Linked DNA regions of Homo sapiens. The protein of the gene in region 6 purifies or fractionates together with the protein of the main gene of each other region. This does not show direct contact. Each region holds a gene or a part of one and is shown on either strand. Other genes may lie near its edges.

Region 1 (3,500 bases), on a different chromosome or scaffold from region 6:
GTCCCAGCCCCTGTCCCCCACCTGCCACCCACTGGGCTTCTGAATATTTTGCCAGGATGCCAACCCTTGTCCCCTGCTCCCCTCACCCAGCCCCTGCCCACTCCCTGGGCCCCCTTCCTGCTCTGGTTTGTGTTTCTCAGTGCTGTCCTCAGGTGCCTGGCTGTTAAAAGAGCAACTCTCAGCCCTGTTAGGAGACTCTCCCACTCACCATCTGGCTTTGGACAGTCCCTTCAGGGGGACGTAGTCGGGCAGCAGAAGAGGACACACTCAGGGAGTTGATCCCACAGAGGCATGCACACACTGGAGCAGACCCCTTGCCCACCACACCAGTCCAATCTCTCCAGGGCCCCACTCACGGGGTCTCCAGCTCAGCCAGCTCGTCCTCGCCGAGCTGGTCCTCCTGCAGCAACTCGGGTGGGGTGCTCACTTTGGCCTCTTTGGTCACTGCCAGAGGCAGTGAGGCCTCCTCGGTGGGTGTCAGGGGAACCTCACCTGCAAGGGGCCAAGGGTACTCAGCAGAAGCAAGGCAGGACAGGAGACGGGACAATCGAGTTGGGTGGACCCATCTCAGCACACTCCCTCACCCAGATTGTCTCGGAGAGCGCTGGCTTCCAGGTGAGGGTCGAAGTGATGGTTGGGCACCAGCTTCAGACGCATGCGTGAATATGTCTCGGCGCTGGACAGTTTCCAGCGGGGGATGGGAGTGTCCCTGCAGAATGTCCCCCAGGTCATGGGTCGGTAGAAGGCTGTAGACACCCCCATCCCTCCCTGGCCTCACCCCAAAGGCAGTCTGGGGCTCCAGGTGGCTCCCTCCCTCCCAAGCCCCACCCCTCCACAGCGACCCTGCCCCAAGCCCGGCCCACCTCAGCGCCCAGGCCCCACATGGGCTGGCGAGCTGGCGCCACAGCGCCCCCCAGTGCAGCAGGGCCATGGAGTGCTGCGTTGCCTGCTGCTTCAGCACTGCCGTGTAGCGTAGCCCCTCCAGGCGCGCCCGCCTCTGCGCAGGTTCCAGCACCAGCTCCTGGGGTGGGGGTAATAGGTCAGTCCCCTGGCTGCTGCCTGCCCTACCCGTTTCTCCACATTGTCAGTCATCTCCTGGGTGCATGTGTGGAGCAGTTTCCCATCCCTTACCCCGGGTGGCACACCTGGAAGGCCCGACGACTCTGGGCGCGCTCCCACTGGCGCCGCTGCCCACTGCTCATAAGCATGTCATAGCAGGCATTCCAGAAACCTGACATAAGGTCGTGGCTCTTAGCATACGTGTCCATTTCGAACTGGGACATGGTTGGCTGTACCTGGAGGATTGGGCAGAGGAGAACAGTGCTCGATGTGGGCCCCAGCCCCCACTCCTCTTCCTGGGCCCCAACCTCCAGGCACCTGTTTGTCGATGAAGTGGCGCCATTCGGGTGTGGCACAAAAAGCCTGGAAGTCTTCAAAGAAGGTGGGGCTGCCATTGGTGGGTGGCAGGGAGGGCAGTCCCCACTGCAGCCCCAGCGGCTCATAGGCACGGTCTAGCAGCGTGCGCACCAGTGGCACCAGCCAGGAGCAGCGCTCTGCAGCTGCTGCAGCTGCTGCAGCTGCAAGTGGGGACCCTGCCTCATCAGTGGCTGACTCCAAGGAAGAGGTGTTCAGCACCCGCCCCAGTGCAGCCTCCAGCTTGGAGAGCACATAGCAGGCCTCCTCGCGGCGGGCTGGCACTGCAGTCTGTAGCAGCATGTGCAATCTCACGTAGGCCTGGGCATGCAGCTGTGGGCGCAAGAGAGATGAGTGGCACCCAGCCACTCTTGGAGCTCCCGACATCTCACACGCCCCCTGCCCCCATGCTCACCCTGTGCTCACCTGTGGGTCTTCCAGCAGGATGTAGCCAAGTACAAGCCGTAGGCCAATCTGCGCCATCTCACGGAGATCAGCTGTGCCGTTGGCCAGGTGGGGCCAGGCTCCCAGGCGATCAAGTAGGCTGCATACACCTTCAAAGAGCTGCCACAGAAAACAGGTTCCCAACAGACATCACCAGGGGAGGCCAGGAGTCCATGGAAAGGGAGCAAAGTAAAGTTTGCGCTGGGGGCCAGGTAGGGTTTGTGCACACAGGCAAGTCCACACTCACAGGCATTCATGCTGATGCACCCACACCTGCGCACGTGTACCCATCCACCTCCCAGACCAGATCCCTGCAGGCTTGCATGAACATGAGTGTTCATGTGGCTCACGCCTCTCTGAGGGGTCGCACCTTCTCACTCCACAGTTCCTGGTTACCATGGCCTTCAGCACACAGGAAGTCCTGCAGCAGACGCAGCAGCCAAAGCGCTTGCTGGGTGAGGCTGGCCAGGACCCCCACGGGGGCCTCTTTGATGTCGGTCAGGGCTGACTCCAGCATCATCTCCAGGAGGCTGGCGGGTGAGTGGGGAACTCAAGGGTCTACCTGACTATCTTCTCTCCTTCCCCCGAGGCTTCCTGAAGCCCCTCCCCCTCCAGACTTTCCCTCTCACCTGCGCTTGATGCAGTCTGGTGGGCGCACAAGTGTGGCTGAGGCCCCCAGCTGGGTGAGCACTGAGAAAACCTGGCCACGCTCCCGCCAGGCAGCCTCATCGCTGCCTTCCACGCCACGCCACGTCACCGAGAACAGCACGTTGGTGAGCAGATTGCACAACTCTTCCTCAGAGGTTTGCTGTGGGCACAGGTGGGTGGTGTGGGCGTGGGTTGTGGGCGGCTAAGGGAGGGAATCAGGCTGACGCCCACCCATCCCCACTCAGCACCCCTCCTGGGGTAGCCACCCAGGAGTCAGAGCATTTGGCTAACAGTGAGCCTGGCACTAAGGGCCTGGAAGAATGGTATAGGGGTCTCAACTACTACCTGAGTTCCAGGCAGAATCCTGGGGTCTTGCCAGACTCCCAAGAGGAGATGAGGCAGTTCACATAGAACAAGCAGAGGCCCATCCCCAAACCCAGAAGCCCAGGGCAGGGCCTTTGGAGTTTGCTGCCCTTGGACCCTGTGAGGTGTCTGCCCTACAGGCTCTCTTGAGGGCCCTTCTGAAGCCTGGCTGGTGTCACCCACTGTGGCTCATCATGACTCACCCTGTTCCAGGAGCCCTCTGGGAACACAACTGCAGATGAGAGCTATGAGGGGACAGCAATAGGCCTGACCAGTGGCTGCAACCCTGGTCAGACAGGGCCACACCTTTGGAGAGGCTACACTGCCAGCCCTGTGTACCAGAAGTGTCCTCCCTTGGGTACCATGCAGTGGCAGAGGGTGGGCCCACCTCACCTGTGGGTTGCTGGTGTTCGAGGTATCATCCCCGCTAATGGTGGGCTCCGGGAGGCTGCCGTCCTCCAGCACATTGGAGAGACTGGAGCTGTGGCGGCCAGGAGCAGCAGGAAAGGGCCGCGGCCCATCCAGTGGCGAAGGAGTGCCGGGCTGGCTGGCTGGAGTAAGAGTCCCACTGCTGCCGCCACCACCAGCAGTGTTGCCTGATCCTACACTAGACCGTTCCAGGCCCAGGTCAA
Region 2 (3,500 bases), on a different chromosome or scaffold from region 6:
TCTTCTCCATGGGAGAGGCAGTGCCCTATGCACACTATGGTAAGAATGCAGTAACCGACCAGCTGATCACAGGTCCTAAGCCAGGGCCCATTGCCCGAGGGCCTGGGACCTGCTGACTACACAGCCTAGCAGGGAGAGGCTATCCCCAAGGCTCACAGAAAGCCAGGAAGGGTGGGTGGTGCGGGGGTCGGAGGGGAATGGGGCTGCAGACTTCTGTGCGCCCCTCTCCCAGAGCACCTGGGCACGCCTTTCGCCCAGTTCCTACTGAACATCGTCGAGGATGGGCTGCCCTTGGACACCACAGAGCAGCTGCCGGACCTCTGCGTGAACCTGCTTCTGGCTCTCAACCTGCACCTGCCAGGTGGGGTGGGGCCTGGCTGGGCGGTGGCTGAGCACATGGTGGCTCTCAGGCTCAGCACCCTGTCTATACCCATGTCCTTCCTTAGCTGCTGACCAGAATGTCATCATGGCTGCCCTGAGCAAACACGCCAATGTCAAGATCTTCTCCGAGAAGCTGTTGTTGCTCCTGAACAGAGGGGGTGAGGGCCCGGGAATCTGCGCGGGTACCACTTCCATGCCCTGTGACTCCATGACCCCTGCAATGACTCCCGTAACCCCCTGGGGTGACTCTGGGATCCCCACAAGGTCCACCCTGACCGCTATGACCCCTGCCTCCTAGATGACCCTGTGCGCATCTTCAAACATGAGCCACAGCCACCACACTCTGTCCTCAAGTTCCTGCAGGACGTGTTTGGCAGCCCGGCCACAGCTGCCATCTTCTACCACACAGACATGATGGCTCTCATTGACATCACTGTGCGGCACATCGCAGACCTGTCACCAGGAGACAAGGTGCCTGGAGGTGGCTGCAGCAGCGGGGGTCACTGTGTGGAAACTGAAACAAAATGGTGGGGGGCATGACATTGAGTGGAGATGAGGGGGCAAGGCCACTGCTGGAGCCAGGTAAGTGTAGGAGGCCATGATAGGTGCACCAAGACCCAAAGGAGCCAGCCATGAGGTGATCTGGAGGTGGTGGGGCTGGAGGAGGCTGGAGAGGAGGGAGTGGAGGGAGATGAGGCATGGAGGATGGAGTTTACACAAAGCCTCGGAGGCTGCTGCAAGAGGTTGTGATCTCAGGACCGGGGAATGTGATGTGATTAACATCCCACATGGAATCAACTGCATGCCAGCAGAGTGGAAGCCAGCCAGGGAGGAAGCAGCCTCAGTGGTCCAGGTGGCATGGATGGGGTGGGGATGGGATAGGTCGTGGCAGTGGCAGTGGCGAGAAGAGGCCAGCTGTGGAGTGTTTAGTAAGTGGATCTGGCAGGGCTTGCCACTTGATTTATCTTGAGCAGCTAGATGGATGAAGTGCTGATTTTTGAAGTTGGGGAGGCTGGGAGAACTTCTTGGGGGAAAATAGAGAGTCGTGTTTTGAATGTGTCAAGAATGAGGAGATATCTGCTAGACACCCAGGTACCGAGGGCATCAGGGAGGCAGTGGGGAATGAGTTGAGACTAGAGAGACATTTCGGAGTGGTCTATGCAGAGATACGATGGGAAGCCTGTGACAATGTGATTGCCTCAGAAATGAGATAGATAGGCAGGTCAGCGGGAAGTTCGGGCTGCAGCCCTGGGCACAGCTGAAACAACTAGGGAGAAACCCAGGAAGAGAACCAAGAAAGCAGGAGCCCAAAGCCACATGTTTAGAGGAAGACGATCAGCCATCTCTATACCGTTAGGAGCCTGAGCGAGACTGGGGTTGGCCATTGGATTCACCACACAGAGGTCAGTGGTGCCTGACAAGCAGTGTCAGTGGGGTGCAAGGAGGAGAGTCTGAATGAAAGTTTGAGAGAGCTTGAAGTTATTGGGGAGTAGAAATGAGGGGAGGGTTGGAAGCAGTAAATGGAGACAACTCTTGTGAATTTTCTATTAAGGGGAAGAGAAAAATGGAAGGGAGGTTGCTGGAGAGAGATGACATGGGGATAGGGAGAGTGTTTTTTTGGGGGTTTTTTGTTGTTGTTGTTTGTTTGTTTGTTTGTCTCCCACTGTTGCCAAGGCTGGAGTGTAGTGGCACGATCGTGGCTCACTGTAACCTCCGCCTCCTGGTTTCAAGTGATTCTCCTGCCTCAGCCTCCCAAGTTGCTGGGATTACAGTCACCCACTACCACACCCAGCTAATTTTTATATTTTAGCAGAGACAGGGTTTCGCCATGTTGGCCAGGCTGGTCTTGAACTCCTGACCTCATGCAATCCACCTGCCTCAGCCTCCCAAAGTGTTGGGATTACAGGTGTGAGCCACCGTGCCTGGCCAGGGAGAGTGTTTTGAAGATGGGGGATGTTGGCCAGGCGCGGTGGCTCATGCTTGTAATCCCAGCACTTTGGGAGGCTGAGGTGGGTGGATCACTTGAGGTCAGGAATTCGAGACCAGCCTGGTCAAAGTGGTCTCTACTAAAAATACAAAATACGAAAAATACAAAAATTAGCTGGGTATGGTGGTGGGAGCCTGTAATCCCACCTACTTGGGAGGCTGAGGCAGGAGAATTGCTTGAACCCGGGAGGTGGAGGTTGCTGTGAGCCAAGATCACACCACTGCACTCCAGCTTGGGTGACAGATGGGGGATGTTGGCCAGGTGCAGTGGCTCACGCCTATAATCCCAGCACTTTGGGAGGCCGAAGTGGGAGGATCACTTGAGTCCATGAGTTCAAGATCAGCCTGGGCAACATAGTGAGACCTCTGTATAACCTGATGGACCACAGTAGAAAATAAAATTAGCTGGGCATGGTGGTATGCACCTGTAATTCCAACTACTTTGGAGGCTGAAGTGGGAAGATTACTTGAGCCCAGGAGGTCAAGGCTGCATTGAGCCATGATTGTGTCATTGCACTCCAGCCTGGGCAACAAAGCCAGACCTTGTCTCTTTAAAAAACAAAAACAAAAATGGTACGGATGATGGTGCATGTTCTGAGCCGGAGGGAATGATCCAGCAAGCACAGAGAGATGGATGATGTGTTGGAGATGGTGAGCCACCACAGGAGTCAAGTGGATGGGGCAGGAGGGGAGAGTTCAGGTCCAGGCCCACATGGACAGGAGCTAGGGCTGCTCATTCTGGTAGGGACAGGTGAGATGTGGGTACTGAGGGGAAAGACGGGTTTCTGCAAGATTACTTCTGTATTCTCTATGAAGCACAAGGCCAGCTGACAAGGTAGGTAGGTTTCAAAGACAGAGAAGGTGGACATTATTACTACTCTAAGGGAGAGTGACACAGCAGAGAAAAGCAGTGGGAGGCTCAGGCAGTGCTGTGTGTCCGTTTGAGGTTTGCGGTGGTGAATGACATTCAGGCCTGCACATGGCTCTGCATTTGTCTATAGCTTAGACGCTGGTGTTTGATGTGCAGGCACCTCAGTATGACTCCCAGGGCTGGGACTTAGCAGGGTGTGCTGCCTAAAGGAGGTTTTGGTATTATTTCTCTAATTAAAGGTAAAAAGAGAAATGAGGGATGT
Region 3 (3,500 bases), on a different chromosome or scaffold from region 6:
TCCATCCACTGCCATTCAGACGGATGCCCTGGATGAATCTGGTGCGGAAGACCAGGGAAGTGGCAGGACAAGGAGGCACTGCTGGTGGTGGCTGTGGAAACACCCAGCCTGACAGAAGGCTTTATCTCAGAGTCAGACTGTCTTGCCCATGCTTTAGTCATGCTGCTTTGGCACATTTAATGATTTTGTGTTTCCATTTCTGTAGGGAATTTGTGGGCTGTTTTATAGATTTTCCTAAGCCTCTGATTGCAGTGGTCAATGGTCCAGCTGTGGGCATCTCCGTCACCCTCCTTGGGCTATTCGATGCCGTGTATGCATCTGACAGGGTAAGTCAGCTCCTAGAAAGCAAGAGGTCAGGCAAGCAGCGCGAGATGAGAGCCTTTGAATCCTCCTTCAGCGTTGCCAGTCATAAGCAGGTTACATGTTGTTTGTGGTAGAATTAACTGAATTTAGATTTTTCCCAAAGCATTAGGCTGATTTGACTGATTTTATTTTTCCTTCATTATTAACTTGCATTTTGTTGTGAACATTGTTCCAACTCTGACTGTTCCGGATTCTAATCAAATTCCACAATAGGTATACAGCTTTCATGTTATTCTGAAAGATTCAGGAGACACTTGAAAATTTGTTATGGGAGGGAGGAATAGCATCTTTGCAGGTTGTGCAAGGGATTAGTTGATCCTTTTTACTGAGTAAATGGATTTAGAATTTTAGAAGGAGAAGGACCTGTGAGCATTATCTACTGTCACTCCCTCCTTTGCAGATAAGAAAACTGAAGCTCTGAGAAGTTCCTTGCCCAGAACACAATTCAGCCTTGTGTTCACCATTGCATTATACAGATTTTAGTTTTTATTTTTACTACAGTAGTAATATATATGTCATAGTGGAAAATAAAATTTTGAAAGATATGAAAAAGTACCAAGAAAAGCTACAAGGTAAAAATCACTCCTTATCTTGCCACCTAGAGATAACCAGTCCTAACGTTTGGGTTATTAACTTATCTTGTTTAACCAGTCCCTGACTGCTGGAACCCTAGGCTGTTTCCAATTTTTATCATTACAAGCACCTAATAACCACCTTTAGGGTATCAGATTGTCCAGTGACTTATGCTTATGTGATGGTAAACTGTGCTGATGATTGCAGCCTTCTAGGGAGCATATGGTTTTTACCACTGAAGAGATTTCTAGTTTTGTTCAGAGGTATTTTCCCCACTGATAGACAGGACCATATAATAGCATCCTTAATTCTTCGAATTTTCTTTTGCTGGATTCCATTGAACCAGATTGGATGTATTGACAGACCTAATTCTTATGAATAATTTTCCCACAAAATTAGCAAATGAGATTCTAGGTGCCAGGCTGCCCAGCCTTTGTAGGTAGAGGTTTCTGTTCAAAGGCAGAAATCAATGTCTTTGTTCACAGTCTGTGTATTAGATGACTGATTAGTCATTGACCTGCTTTTAACAGGGACTGGGTCAATGGTTCCTGACCTAAAATTGGGGATCTCATTCTTTAATACTTGGAGGGCAAATATTGTATTTGAATCTTGTTCTGATTCTCCCACTGAATTGAAAATTACTTTCAATATACATCATCCTTATTTTTTTTTTTTTAAGAGATGGGAGTCTCACTCTGTCACCCAAGCTGGAATGCAGTGGCACGATCTTGGCTCACTGCAGCCACCACCTCCCGGGTTCAAGCGATTCTCCCACTCAGCCTCCTGAGTAGTACAGGTGCGTGCCACCACATCGAGCTAATTTTTTTGTATTTTTAGTAGAGACAGGGTTTCACTGTGTCGGCCAGGCTGGTCTCGAACTCCTGACCTCAAGTGATTCGCCTGCGTTGGCCTCCTGAAGTGCTGGGAGTACAGGTGTGAGCCACTGAGCCTGGCCTGCATCAACCTTTTAAAAATGTTGATGACTTCCATCTTATGATATAAATTGTAATAAATGTTGAAATCAGAAAACATATATACATAATACATATAAAACATATCTATTCTATATATATTATAATATATGTATATTGCATATATATATTAAATGCTAAAAAATTTGGCCAAAAGTAAAATTTATTTGTCAAATAGTGTCTTCTGATAAAAGTTTACCCAACCAAACAAATCAAGCATCATTTAAAATAAAGGAAATTGAGGTGGGCAGATCACCTGAGGTCAGGAGTTCAAGACCAGCCTGGCCAACATGGTGAAACACCATCTCTACTAAAAATATAAAAATTAGCCGGGCTTGGTGGCGGGTGTCTGTAATCCCAGCTACATTGGAGGCTGAGGCAGGAGAATTGCTTGAACCCAGGAGGTAGAGGTTGCAGTGAGCCGAGATCGTACCACTGCACTCCAGCCTAGGTGACAGAGCGAGACTCTGTCTCAAAAAAATATATAAGTAAAAAATAAATAAAATAAAGGAAATATGCTAAAGGAAAAGGCTGTAGAAAAAATTGTTTTATAAGATTTACCATTATTGGCTTCAAGAATAAATATCATATTAAATGATGGGTTAATATTTAACCCATATAACCAAAATATTAATCAGTACATTTAATCTATTTTATACTGTGGGCAATGGTTAATAATGCCTATTAGCTCTGTCAGCAAATGATACATTTCCTGTATGAGTTAAGAAAAAGGTAGAAATCATAACAATAATAAATCTTTGAGTGGTCACTGTTTAGGCACTCTATTCACATGCATTATGTATATTATAAATATACGCATACACACACACATATTCACGTAATGTACAGAGTAGCCCGATGAAAGAAGGACTTGGCCAGGCACAGTGGCTCACGCCTCTAATCCTGGCACTTTGGGAGGCCAGGGCAAGTGGATCACCTGAGGTCGGGAGTTCAAGACCAGCCTGGCCAATGTGGTGAAACCCCTTCTCTACTAAAAATACAAAAATTAGCCAGGTGTGGTGGCAGGCGCCTGTAGTCCCAGCTACTTGGTAGGCTGAGGCAAGAGTAAGGCTGGGCAACAGAGTGAGACCCTGTCTATAAAAACAAACATTCTCCTCCAATGTGGCAAAAATAAGTTTTACAATCTAGGCTGGGCATGGTGGCTCATGCCTGTAATCTTAGCACTTTGGGAGGCCAAGGCAGGTGGATCACTTGAGGTCAGGAATTCGAGACCAGCCTGGCCAACATGGTGAAGCCCCGTCTCTACTAAAAATACAAAAATGAGCTGGGTGTGGTGGTGCACGCCTATAATCCCAACTGCTCGGGAGGCTGAGGCAGGAGAATCGCTTGAACCCGGGAGGCGGAGGTTGCAGCGAGTTGAGATTGCGCCACTGCACTCAAGGCTGGGCAACCGAGCAAGACTCCGTCTCAAAAAAAAAAAAAAGCAAAGAAGGATTGGTTCCCATTTTACAAATGAGAAAACTGTGGTACAGAGAGGGTAAGAAACTTTCCCAACGTCCCTAAGTAGTCTGACGCCAGAGCCTAAACCCTTAACTCCACCTGCTGCTCTCTTTCTGAAAATCAGCATTTTAA
Region 4 (3,500 bases), on a different chromosome or scaffold from region 6:
GGCTGGAGCCACAGCCAAGCCATGGACTGCGGGTGGCCCAGCAGCCCCTGTTGGGGGGATAGGCTGGGAGCCTGGGGGCAGGGCTGGTGGTGGCTGCTGCTGCTGTTGGTGCATCTGTTGGAAGTGCTGCTGCCGAGCCCTCATCTCCGCATACTTCAGCTGCTCCATGTGGAAGGCTTGTCTGTCGGCCAGGAGCTGCTGCCTCTGATACTCCAGCTGCCAGTGCCAATTGAGTATTGTTATCCAATTTTCAGCAGATCCCAAAGGCAAATGCCTCAACCCCTGCTTTGTCTTCTTCTGAAAGAGCCTGCCTCTCAATCAGAAGGTTCCCAAAATCTACATCTTGTGCTTGTGCTCCCTCTGTCCTCCCCACCCGACTTCGTGCAAATTCCCATGACCTTTATGTCTCCTGAGTGCCCACATGGTTTCTTATTGCAATGACTTTAACCTGGCCCAAGCTCACTTCAGCTACAAAGCTTTGAACTTGCCATTACCTTGATTTGGAAAATGCTTCCAGTTCCTTTTGTCAATTCAAGTTCTTTTCTTACTTCAAAATTCACTAAAAAGTCACTGTTCTTAGGAAGCTATCCCAGATCAATTCATTTGCCTCTGAGCTTTAGCTTTATTCTATGATCTCAGGACTTAGAAACTTGATGTGCAATCTCTTTATTTTTTTGAGACTGAGTCTCACTCTGTCACCCAGGCTGGAGTACAGTAGCGTGATCTCAGCTCACTGCAACCTCCGCCTCCCCGGTTCAAGCAATTCTCCTGCCTCAGCCTCCCGAGTAGCTGGGATTACAGGTGTGTGCCAGCATGCCGGGCTAATTTTTTGTATTTTTTTATTCTTTAGTAGAGACGGGGTTTCACCATGTTAGCCAGGATGGTCTCGATCTCCTTGATCTCGTGATCCACCTGCCTCAGCCTCCCAAAGTGCTGGAATTACAGGTGTGAGCCACCGCGCCCGGCTGATGTGCAATCTCTTAATGTGAATTTGTCAGATACTTTAAACCTTCTTAACTGTTTCTGATGTCTCCATATTGTATATTCATTTGATGTCTCCCATTAAACCTTAAGTTCTCTGAGGTCCCTATCTTCTATTTCTTTTTCTTCTTTTTTTTTTTTTTGAGATAGGGTCTCACTCTGTCACCCAGGCTGGAATGCAATGGGGCAAACATGGCTCAGTGCAGCCTTGACCTCCTGGGCTCAAACGATCCTCCCACCTCAGCTTCCTGAGTAGCTGGGACCACAGGCTCGCACCACCACGCCCGGCTAATTTGTTTATTTTTAAAAAATGTTTGGGCTGGGCACGGTGGCTCATGCCTGAAATCCCAGCGCTTTGGGAGGCTGAGGTGGGCGGATCACCTGAGGTCAGGAGTTTGAGACCAGCCTGGCCAACATGGTGAAACCCTGTCTCTACTAAAAATACAAAAATTAGCTGGTCATGGTGGCATGTGCCTGTAATCCCAGCTACTCGGGAGGTGAGGCAGGAGAATCGCTTGAACCCAGGAGGCGGAGGTTGCAGTGAGCCGTGATTGCACCACTGCACTCCAGCCTGGGCGAAAGAGTAAGACTCCATCTCAAAAAAAAAAAAAAAAGCGTGATGACTCACCTGTAATCCGGCACTTTGGGAAGCAGAGATGGGCTGATCACCTGAGATCGGGAGTTCGAGACCAGCCTGACCAACATAGAGAAACCCCATCTCTACTAAAAATACAAAATTAGCTGGGCATGGTGGCACATGCCTGTAATCCCAGCTACTGGGGAGGCTGAGGCAGGAGAATCGCTTCCCAGGAGGCGGACGTTGTGGTGAGCGAAGATCACACCATTGCACTCCAGCCTGGGCAACAAGAGCGAAACTCTGTCTCAAATAAATAAATAAATAAATAAATAAAATAAATTGTTGAGACAGAGATCTCACTATGTTACCCAGGCTGGTCTTGAACTCCTGGGCTCAAGTGATCCATCTGCCTCAGTGTACCAAAGTACTAGGATTACAAATGTGGGCCACTGTGCCCAGTCCCTATTGTCTATTTCTTTTTATGTCCTCCAAAGACAAAATGGTTCAACACTGTGTCGGTCCCATTCCCTTTCCAAGTTCACCTCCTGGATCTGAGGCTCTTACCCTCTCTCTCATCATCCGTTACGCCCATTCACTCAATCACTATTTGAGTCTACTATGGGCCAAGCACTGTTCAAGGACCTGGAGATGCAGCAATCAAAACAACCAACTAGAGTCCCTGCCTCATGGAGCTGACCTTCTGTGGGACTTCAGTCCCCAGACTTCACTTGTGAGACCACTTAACTGTCTCTAACTGGCTGCCCTACTCCTGCCCTGTTCCTGCCCTGCTCTGCTTTGAAGCCCTGTCTGTCTCAGGCTTTCCCCACTGTTGCTTATCTTTCACTGAAACACACACACACACACACACACTCAGGCTTTCCCCACTGTTGCTTATCTCTCTTTCACTGAAACACACACACACACACACACACACACACACACACACACACACACACACGCCCCTCCGATTTTAAACTGAGGCACAGCGCAGCAGGGTTCCAGGGCTCCTGCTACTCACTGCTTCTCGCTCCCGGTCCATGATAGTCTCCAGCTCCTCAAAGTGCCGAAGTTTGATCTCCAACTTTTTCATCTGGGTCTCCACCAGCAGGGCCACCAAAGATTTGATCTTCCTTTCCTCAACAGCAGCCAAGTGCTAGGGAAGGAGGGGCGAGACAGCACATCAGTGGGAGGACCCAACTGAAGACAATACAGAAGAAAGGTAGGGTGGATGCTGGCAGGTATAAGAACAAATTTGCTGTGGTCACAACCCATGGTGAAAGGGCTTGACTTTTTTGTGCTGGGATTATAGGCGTGAGCCACCGTGTCTTTTTTCTTTTTTCTTTTTTTTTTTTTGGGACAGTCTCACTCTGTTGCCCAGGCTGGAGTACAGTGGCATGATCTCAGCTCACTGTAACCTCTACCTCCTGGGTTCAAGCAATTCTCGTGCCTTTGCCTCCCCAGTACCTGGGATTACAGACATGCGCCACCACGCCGGCTAATTTCTGTGTTTTTAGTAGAGATGGGGTTTCACCATGTTGGCCAGGCTGGTCTCAAACTTACAACCTCAGGTGATCCACCTGCCTCAGCCTCCCAAAGTCCTGGGATTACACGCGTGAGCCACTGCGCCCAGCCTTTTTAAAAAATTAAATTATTTTGGCCAGGTGTGATGGCTCATGCCTGTAATCCCAGCGCTTTGGGAGGCTAAGGCGAGCAGATCACTTGAGTCCAGGAGTTTGAGACCAGCCTGGGGCAACAGGGTGAAACCCCATCTCTGCTAAAAATACAAAAATTAACCGGGCATGCTGGCACGTGCCTGTAATCCTAGCTACTTGGGAGGCTGAGGTGGGAGAATCGCTTGAACCTGGGAGGTGGAGGTTGCAGTGAGCCGAGATTGTGCCACTGCACTCCAGCCTGGGCAACAGAGTGAGACTCCATCTCAAAA
Region 5 (3,500 bases), on a different chromosome or scaffold from region 6:
GGGACTACAGCCACGTGCCACCATGTTTGGCTAATTATTTGTATTTTTTGTAGAGATGGGGTTTTGCCATGTTGTCCAGGCTGGTCTTGAACTCCTGAGCGTAGTTTTTTGGTGGACACAGGTGGATTGCTTGAGCGATCTGCCTGCCCTGACCTTCCAAAGTACTAGGATTACAGGTGTCAGCTACCACACCTGGCTTCATGTCTTGCTTTCTTTTTTGCTTTTCAGTTCCTTGCTCCATTTCTCTCTTTCCTCTCATATTTTACTGTAAGTAACAAGGAGAAACCAGGATGTCTCTTCCGCACTTTGCTTGGAAATCTCCTCAGCTAAATATCCGAGTTCATCCCTTACAAATTCTACTTTTCTCCCAACAGTAGACCGTAACTTAGCCAAGTTCTCTGTCACTTTATAACAAGTAACATCTTTTCTCAACTCTGTCTGAGACATCACCAGAGGAAACATTCATATTTCTGGCAAAATCCATCCATGACAACATATGTATTCTGTAAATAATAGAAGTTTTCTTTACAGCTCTCATCTCTTCTGAGTCTTCATCACAATTGCCTTTCATGTCCCTATTTCTACCAATGATCTCTTCAAGGCAATCTGGGCTTTTTCTGTCAAGCACTTCAAAACTCTTTCAGTCTCTACTCATTACCCAATTCCAAAGCCACTTTCATATTTTCAGGTGTTTGTTGTAGCAGCAACCCACTTTCTGGTGCTATAATCTGTATTAGTTTCCTAGGGCAGCTGTAACAAATTGCCACAAATTGTGTGGCCTAAAAAAATAGAAATTATTCTCTCACAATTCGGTAAGCTGGAAGTCCAAAATTCAGGTGTTGGCAGGTTTGGTTCCTTCTGGAGATTCTGAAGCAGAATCTGTTCTTTGCCTCTCTCCTAGTTTCTGATGGCTACTGGCAGTCCTTGACACTCCTTGACTTCTACACATATCACTCTAATCTTTGCCTCCATCTTTACGTGGTGTTCTCTCCTGTGTTTTCTGTGTCCAAATATCCATTGTCCTATAAAGACATCAGTCCATTGGTCTTAGGGTCTAACCCTAATCCGCTATGACCTCATTTTAACTTGATTCCATCTGCAAAGACACTTTTTCCAAATAAGAGACTGGGGCTCAATATATCTTTCTGGAGGCTATAATTCTATCTGCTACAGATAGTCAATACTTTCTCCTGAAAGATAAAAATTATAAAACTATACAAACAAAACAAAACAAAAATGACAATAATGGCCAACTATTGTATATCAATCTAACCCAGGGTCCCTATATTTTAACTGAACTCAAATTTTTTATTATGAGATTTTTATCAGACTGTCTTTATGACAAAATCTTATTTAAATCCACATGCAAAAAAATGATGCTGGGCTCTTATATCATTTGTAAAAATTAACTCAAAATGAAACAAAGACCTGAATATATGAGCTAAAACTATAAAACTCTTATTAGAAAACATAGGGGAAAAGCTTTATGACATTGCAGTTAACAATAATTTCTTGGATATGACACCACAAGTATAGGCATCAAAGGAAAAAAAAAATTGGACTTCATTTAAATTGAAAACTTCTGTACATCAAAAACTGTTGAAAAGGCAACCCACACAATGGGAGAAAATATTTGCAAATCACGTATACACTAAGGTATTAATCTCCAGAATATGTAAAGAACTTCTACAACAACAATTTAAAACAATCTGATTAAAAAATGAACAAAGGATTTGAATAAGCATGTCTCCAAAGAAGATACACAAATCGTCAATAAACAAATGAAAAGATGCTCAACATCACTAACCATTAAGGAAATGCAAATCAGAACCACGAGATACCGCTCTATTCCCATTATGACGGCTCTTATAAAAAATAAAAAAATTACAAGTGTTGGCAAGGATATGGAGCAACTGGAACCCTCGTGCATTGCTGGTAGAAATGTAAAATGGTGTAGCACCTACGGAAAAACCACATGGCTATTCCTCAAAAAATTAAACACAGAATTATCATATGATCCAGTAATTCCACTTCTGGGTATATACCCAAAAGAACTGAAAGCAAGCACCCGAACAGATATATTTGTATACTCATGTTCATAGCAGCATTATTCACAACAGCCAAAAGGTAGAAACAAATCAAATGTCCATTGACAGAGGAATGGCTAAACAAAAATGTGGTACATACATACAATGAAATGTTATTCAGCCTTAAAAAAGGATGAAATTCTGACACATGCTACACAATATGGATGAACCTTGAGGTAAAGTAAACCTTAAGGCTAAGTGAAATCAGTCACAAAAGGACAAACATTGTGTGATTCCACTATATGAGGTATCTAGAGTAATCGAATTCATAGTGACAGAAAGCAGAATGACAAATAATGGTGATAGTTACACAACATTGTGAATGTACTAATGCCACAGAACTGTCTACTTAAAAATAGTTAAAATGGGAAATTTGATGTATGTATCTTTTACTACAAAAAAAAGTAATGGGCTTCTATGCAAATTATGAGAATGACAGAAATTTACCACTGAACTTGATTTTATCAATGTTTACGACCTCAGGTCAATAAAGTATCTTTGAGGCCGGGTGCGGTGGCTCATGCCTGTAATCCCAGCACTTTGGGAGGCTGAGGCAGGTGGATCACTCAAGGTCAGGAGTTCGAGAGCAGCCTGGCCAACACGGTGAAACCCCATCTCTACTAAAACTACAAAAAATTGGCCAGGTGTGGTGGCACACTCCTATAATCCCAGCTACTCAGGAGGCTGAGACAGAAGAATCGCTTGAACCCAGGAGGTGGGTGCAGTAAGCAAAGATCGTGCCATTGCACTCCAGCCTGGGCAACAGAGTCAGACTTCATCTCAAAAAAAATAAATAAATAAATAAATAAAGTATCTTTGAATGTTTTCTGTTTCACTAAATAACATCTTTACAAAACAAATAAATATATTACCTCTTGAATTTCTTTTTCTAATAGCTCCACTCTTTCTCGAAGATGTCTCCTCTCAGTGTCAATAGAAAGAAGTTCCAGTCGAACTGAGCTGCTTTCTCCCTCAGCTTGATGGGCTTTGACCTCCCAGTCTTCAGCACGGTTATGAAGCATCTGAAATCTATCTAACAAATCTTGATTTTCTTTTTCCTGGTTTAATCACAATAAAATTGTTTCTAAATTAGTAATTGTCACTTCCTGGAACACCTATGTCATAAACACATACACATACACAGCATTCTGTTCTAATTTAGGAAGCATTAGATATCTGTGCAGGTACCACACTAAAATCTATGGGAAAAATAGAAAAAGGCAGTAGACAAGATCTCTACTTTAAAATGTTTAATATCTAATTGTAGAGGCACATGAAAAAGTTAAAAAAAAAAAAAACCTCAGTCTTAAATCCAACCTAAATAATATTTTTCACCTTGGCAGCCATTAAGCTCTCCCATCGTGACACCTCTGTTATGTATTTATGAACTCTGCTCTTCATTTCTTCTTTTTC
Region 6 (3,500 bases):
GCTGGGATTACAGGCATGAGCCACTGTACCCAGCATGCAGCGTTTACATTCAAGTGCTCATTAAGAAAATAAAAAGTCCTGCAGTGAGAAATTTGTAATACATATAATGGATAAAAAACTGATGTGTAGAATTCACAAAGAACTCCTACAAAATCAGTAAGACATAAAACCTAGTCAAAAAATGGGAAAAAGACTTGAATCAGCATTTCATAAAAGAGGAAATACAAATTAACAATAATCAAATAAAAAAAGTGAAACCTCATTAGTCATCAGGGAAATGTAAATTAAATCCATTATCATGATACCACTAAACATCCACTAGGATTGCTAAACCTTAAAAGTTTAACAATACCAAGTGTTGATAAGGATGCAAAAAAACTGAAACACTGAAACACTGCTGGTGAGAATATAAACTGAAACAACCACTTTGGAAAAATGTTTAACAATACCCATTAACGCAGAACATGTATATACTCTATAATCAGGCAATTCCAATCCTTAATAGATATCCAAACAAAATTAAACACACACAAACAAACACATACATCTAAAGGGACACATACAGCATCAAAAGACACACAGCAGCACTTTTCATAATAACCAAAAAACTTCAATGACCATTAATATTAAAATGGATAAACAGATTGTGTTATATTCATACAATGAACTATTGTACAGGAACGGGAATAAACTACTACTACACACAACATGGATGACTCTCACAATAATACAATGTCAAGTGAAAGATGCCAGACTCATGAGTACATACAGTATTATTTCACTCACATGAAGTTCAAAAATAGGCAAAACTAATCTATGGCTCAGTATAGCAGTTATCTTTGGGGTATTAGAAAATAACTGAGGGGGATGAGGGAGATTTCTTGGGCACCAGTAATTCCTATTTCTTGATCTAGTAGTGATACCATGTGTGCCTTTTTTTTTTTTTTTTTTTTTGAGACGGAGTCTCACTCTGTCACCCAGGATGGAGTAGAGTGGCACGATCTTGGCTCACTGCAACCTCCGCCTCCCGGGTTCAAGCAATTCTCCTGCCTCAGCCTCCCAAGTAGCTGGGACTACAGGCGCATGTTACCATGCCAGCTAATTTTAGTATTTTTTAGTAGAGATGGGGTTTCACCATATTGACCAGGCTGGTCTCGAACTCTTAACCTCATGATCCGCTCCCCCCTCAGCCTCCCAAAGTGCTGGGATTACAGGCATGAGCAACCGCACCTGGCCAATGTGTGTCTTTATTTTGTGAAAATTCACTAAGCTGAACACTTAAAATTGTGCACTTCTCTGTTACGTTTCAATAAGTTTTATTATATGTGAAAAAAAAGGTCCTGGAAAACCAACATCCATTGATATGACAGTTTTCTGGACCAACGGTAGTCTTCTGGAAGACTGAGTGAATCCAATGATATACACAGTGTCAAAACAGCTCCCCTAGACTCTCAACAATGTGATATGTTATTTACATGTCATGCAGTTTTGTCACATGACTTTTTAGAAATCTCGTTTTTATAAAGCAGCTTAAATCTGGATTTTGCAAAAACTCAAAGCCATTTACAGTACTTTATTTGTAACAGCATGTTATCAGTAAATTTGTTTAGTTGTGTTCTAAACTCTTGTTTTTCTAATCAGCTTTGATTATTTAAAAAAAGTGGCTTCTCATATCAGTTATATGTTTGATAGCAAAATCTGAATTAGAAATACAAGAAGTTCACAGGTTTCCTTAATAGTATAGATTATTCTTACCTCAGTCTTGTTCACTCACTAACCAGCTTCCCACTGATTTTTTACCTAGTTACACTGGAGAAAAAGAACTATGCCTGGGTAACAGTCCCAAACTATACTCTATAAGGGCTGAGTGAGCAAAAGCAGCAGGGGGTGACTGAAATGGCAATGACATAAGCTAGTTAGGGGAAACGTTTTCAAAACAAGGTGGATAATGTGAGTAGGATCCAATTCAAGGATTAAAAAGCCATCCTTATCAAAGCTGCAGATGAAAATGCTGAAGAGGGATATCACATACCTAAAACAATATAATCATCATTGACCAAGATTTCAGCAGACTGAAATGATGGTGCAAACCTAACTAGAAAACAATCTAAAGAGAAATGTAAAGTCTTAGAAAAAGGAACAAGAAAAACAAAAACAAAAAACCAACCACACAAGTTCAGGATAAGAGAGACTTGGCTTAATAAAAGCTAATGTGAAAAAGACCTGGGAAGCTAGATTGATGTTAAGTTCAACAAGAGTCAACACTGTGAGAGTGCTGAAAAAAACAAACAAAAAAGCAATTTGTTAAGCTATACAATATAAGCACATTATTTATAATGAAGTTGGTACTAGGCCCATGCTCCTCTGCATCTGAAGTAAGTGTTCATTCTGAAGGAGACTAACAAACTAAAGGCCCTTCAAAGGACAGTGAGCAGTACAGCAGGATGAGGTTAGAAACAATGTTAAGATGAAAAGAATCTGAGTTGTGATTGGCAGAGCAAACTGGGTGAGGTAGGGTGAGGGAGACATGAGGGTAATAGTTTTTAAATAACTGTAGTGACATGCTGTAGAAGAGGCATAGGATAATTCATTCTGTGTTGCTCCAGAGGCAAATCTAGAATCAACAGATAAAAGTTAAAGAATCACATTTAGGTTCAATGTAAAAAACAAACTTTCTAGAATCAATGCCTTATATGGCAGTGTTCCTAATCACAATGCCAATGTTAAGCATACAACTGCTCATCACAGAAAGTACAATGGACTTAAAGTGGGTCAGAAGTCCTTGGATTCTAATCTCATCTTGACCATTTACTAGCTGTGTTATATGAGGCAAGGTATTTACAACCTCTCTGAATCTCAGCTTTTCTTATGTATTTATTTACCTCCTGATATCACTAAGAGGAATAAATAAGATGATATGTGCAAGACTCATTGTGACAAACTGAAATGGAATACAAACGTGCGTTGCCGTAGACAGATATATTAGATAATTGCTAATATCCTCCCAGCACAGAGATTATTAACTTGAGAAGTTATTTTCTTCTGAAGACAAAACTTAAAATAGGTCCTAAATTCACACAGCCAAGATTTAGTAGGCAAAGAGAGAAAATATTAACATGACGGAAATCAAGGGAGCAGGAAATGTATGTTTCATGAGGTGTTAAGAATGTACTTCTCTGATAGCAAATTAGTTACCAGATCTAAAAGGCAATGCTCATTCCAGGAGATTAAGAACGAATTCAAATCAAGATGATACACATGCCAAATAAGCACTGACAGTATAGGCTTGAATCATGGCAGTAAACAGAGCTTAAATAGTACTTTTGCTTTGGGGACCCTCTAGACTCAACTGTACCTATTCTGGGGTTCTACTCACTCTGCTAAATAATCCTGACTGAGCAAGTTACGCAGTCCTCTCAGTGCCATTTTGTTAAGAGTAAATGGAGAATAATCTGCCTACTTCACAGGTTGTTGAGAAGACTTCCATGAGATAATAATGT

The links.
Region 1: the proteins of YLPM1 (region 6) and NBEAL2 purify together in Homo sapiens (tandem affinity purification; one large-scale study listed by IntAct). This does not show direct contact.
Region 2: the proteins of YLPM1 (region 6) and NCKIPSD purify together in Homo sapiens (co-immunoprecipitation; one large-scale study listed by IntAct). This does not show direct contact.
Region 3: the proteins of YLPM1 (region 6) and ECI2 purify together in Homo sapiens (co-immunoprecipitation; one large-scale study listed by IntAct). This does not show direct contact.
Region 4: the proteins of YLPM1 (region 6) and SMARCC2 fractionate together in Homo sapiens (co-fractionation; one large-scale study listed by BioGRID). This does not show direct contact.
Region 5: the proteins of YLPM1 (region 6) and CEP135 purify together in Homo sapiens (co-immunoprecipitation; one large-scale study listed by IntAct). This does not show direct contact.

Annotation. Positions count from the first base shown.
Region 1 is NC_000003.12:47,000,166-47,003,665, reverse strand, and holds part of NBEAL2 (neurobeachin-like protein 2), read right to left. Parts: coding exon 3,262-3,500; intron 2,666-3,261; coding exon 2,487-2,665; intron 2,388-2,486; coding exon 2,228-2,387; intron 1,978-2,227; coding exon 1,840-1,977; intron 1,747-1,839; coding exon 1,378-1,746; intron 1,296-1,377; coding exon 1,146-1,295; coding exon of another isoform or gene 1,132-1,145; intron 1,022-1,131; coding exon 864-1,021; intron 710-863; coding exon 585-709; intron 493-584; coding exon 357-492; intron 1-356. UniProt on the Homo sapiens protein: Probably involved in thrombopoiesis. Plays a role in the development or secretion of alpha-granules, that contain several growth factors important for platelet biogenesis.
Region 2 is NC_000003.12:48,675,916-48,679,415, reverse strand, and holds part of NCKIPSD (NCK-interacting protein with SH3 domain), read left to right. Parts: coding exon 1-39; intron 40-232; coding exon 233-361; intron 362-446; coding exon 447-539; intron 540-679; coding exon 680-852; intron 853-3,500. UniProt on the Homo sapiens protein: Has an important role in stress fiber formation induced by active diaphanous protein homolog 1 (DRF1). Induces microspike formation, in vivo. In vitro, stimulates N-WASP-induced ARP2/3 complex activation in the absence of CDC42.
Region 3 is NC_000006.12:4,122,076-4,125,575, reverse strand, and holds part of ECI2 (enoyl-CoA delta isomerase 2), read left to right. Parts: exon of another isoform or gene 1-205; coding exon 206-326; exon of another isoform or gene 327-616; intron 617-3,500. UniProt on the Homo sapiens protein: Able to isomerize both 3-cis and 3-trans double bonds into the 2-trans form in a range of enoyl-CoA species. Has a preference for 3-trans substrates.
Region 4 is NC_000012.12:56,165,484-56,168,983, forward strand, and holds part of SMARCC2 (SWI/SNF complex subunit SMARCC2), read right to left. Parts: intron 2,712-3,500; coding exon 2,577-2,711; intron 217-2,576; coding exon 1-216. UniProt on the Homo sapiens protein: Involved in transcriptional activation and repression of select genes by chromatin remodeling (alteration of DNA-nucleosome topology).
Region 5 is NC_000004.12:56,011,445-56,014,944, reverse strand, and holds part of CEP135 (centrosomal protein of 135 kDa), read right to left. Parts: coding exon 3,423-3,500; intron 3,146-3,422; coding exon 2,960-3,145; intron 1-2,959. UniProt on the Homo sapiens protein: Centrosomal microtubule-binding protein involved in centriole biogenesis. Acts as a scaffolding protein during early centriole biogenesis.
Region 6 is NC_000014.9:74,783,816-74,787,315, reverse strand, and holds part of YLPM1 (YLP motif-containing protein 1), read right to left. Parts: intron 1-3,500. UniProt on the Homo sapiens protein: Plays a role in the reduction of telomerase activity during differentiation of embryonic stem cells by binding to the core promoter of TERT and controlling its down-regulation.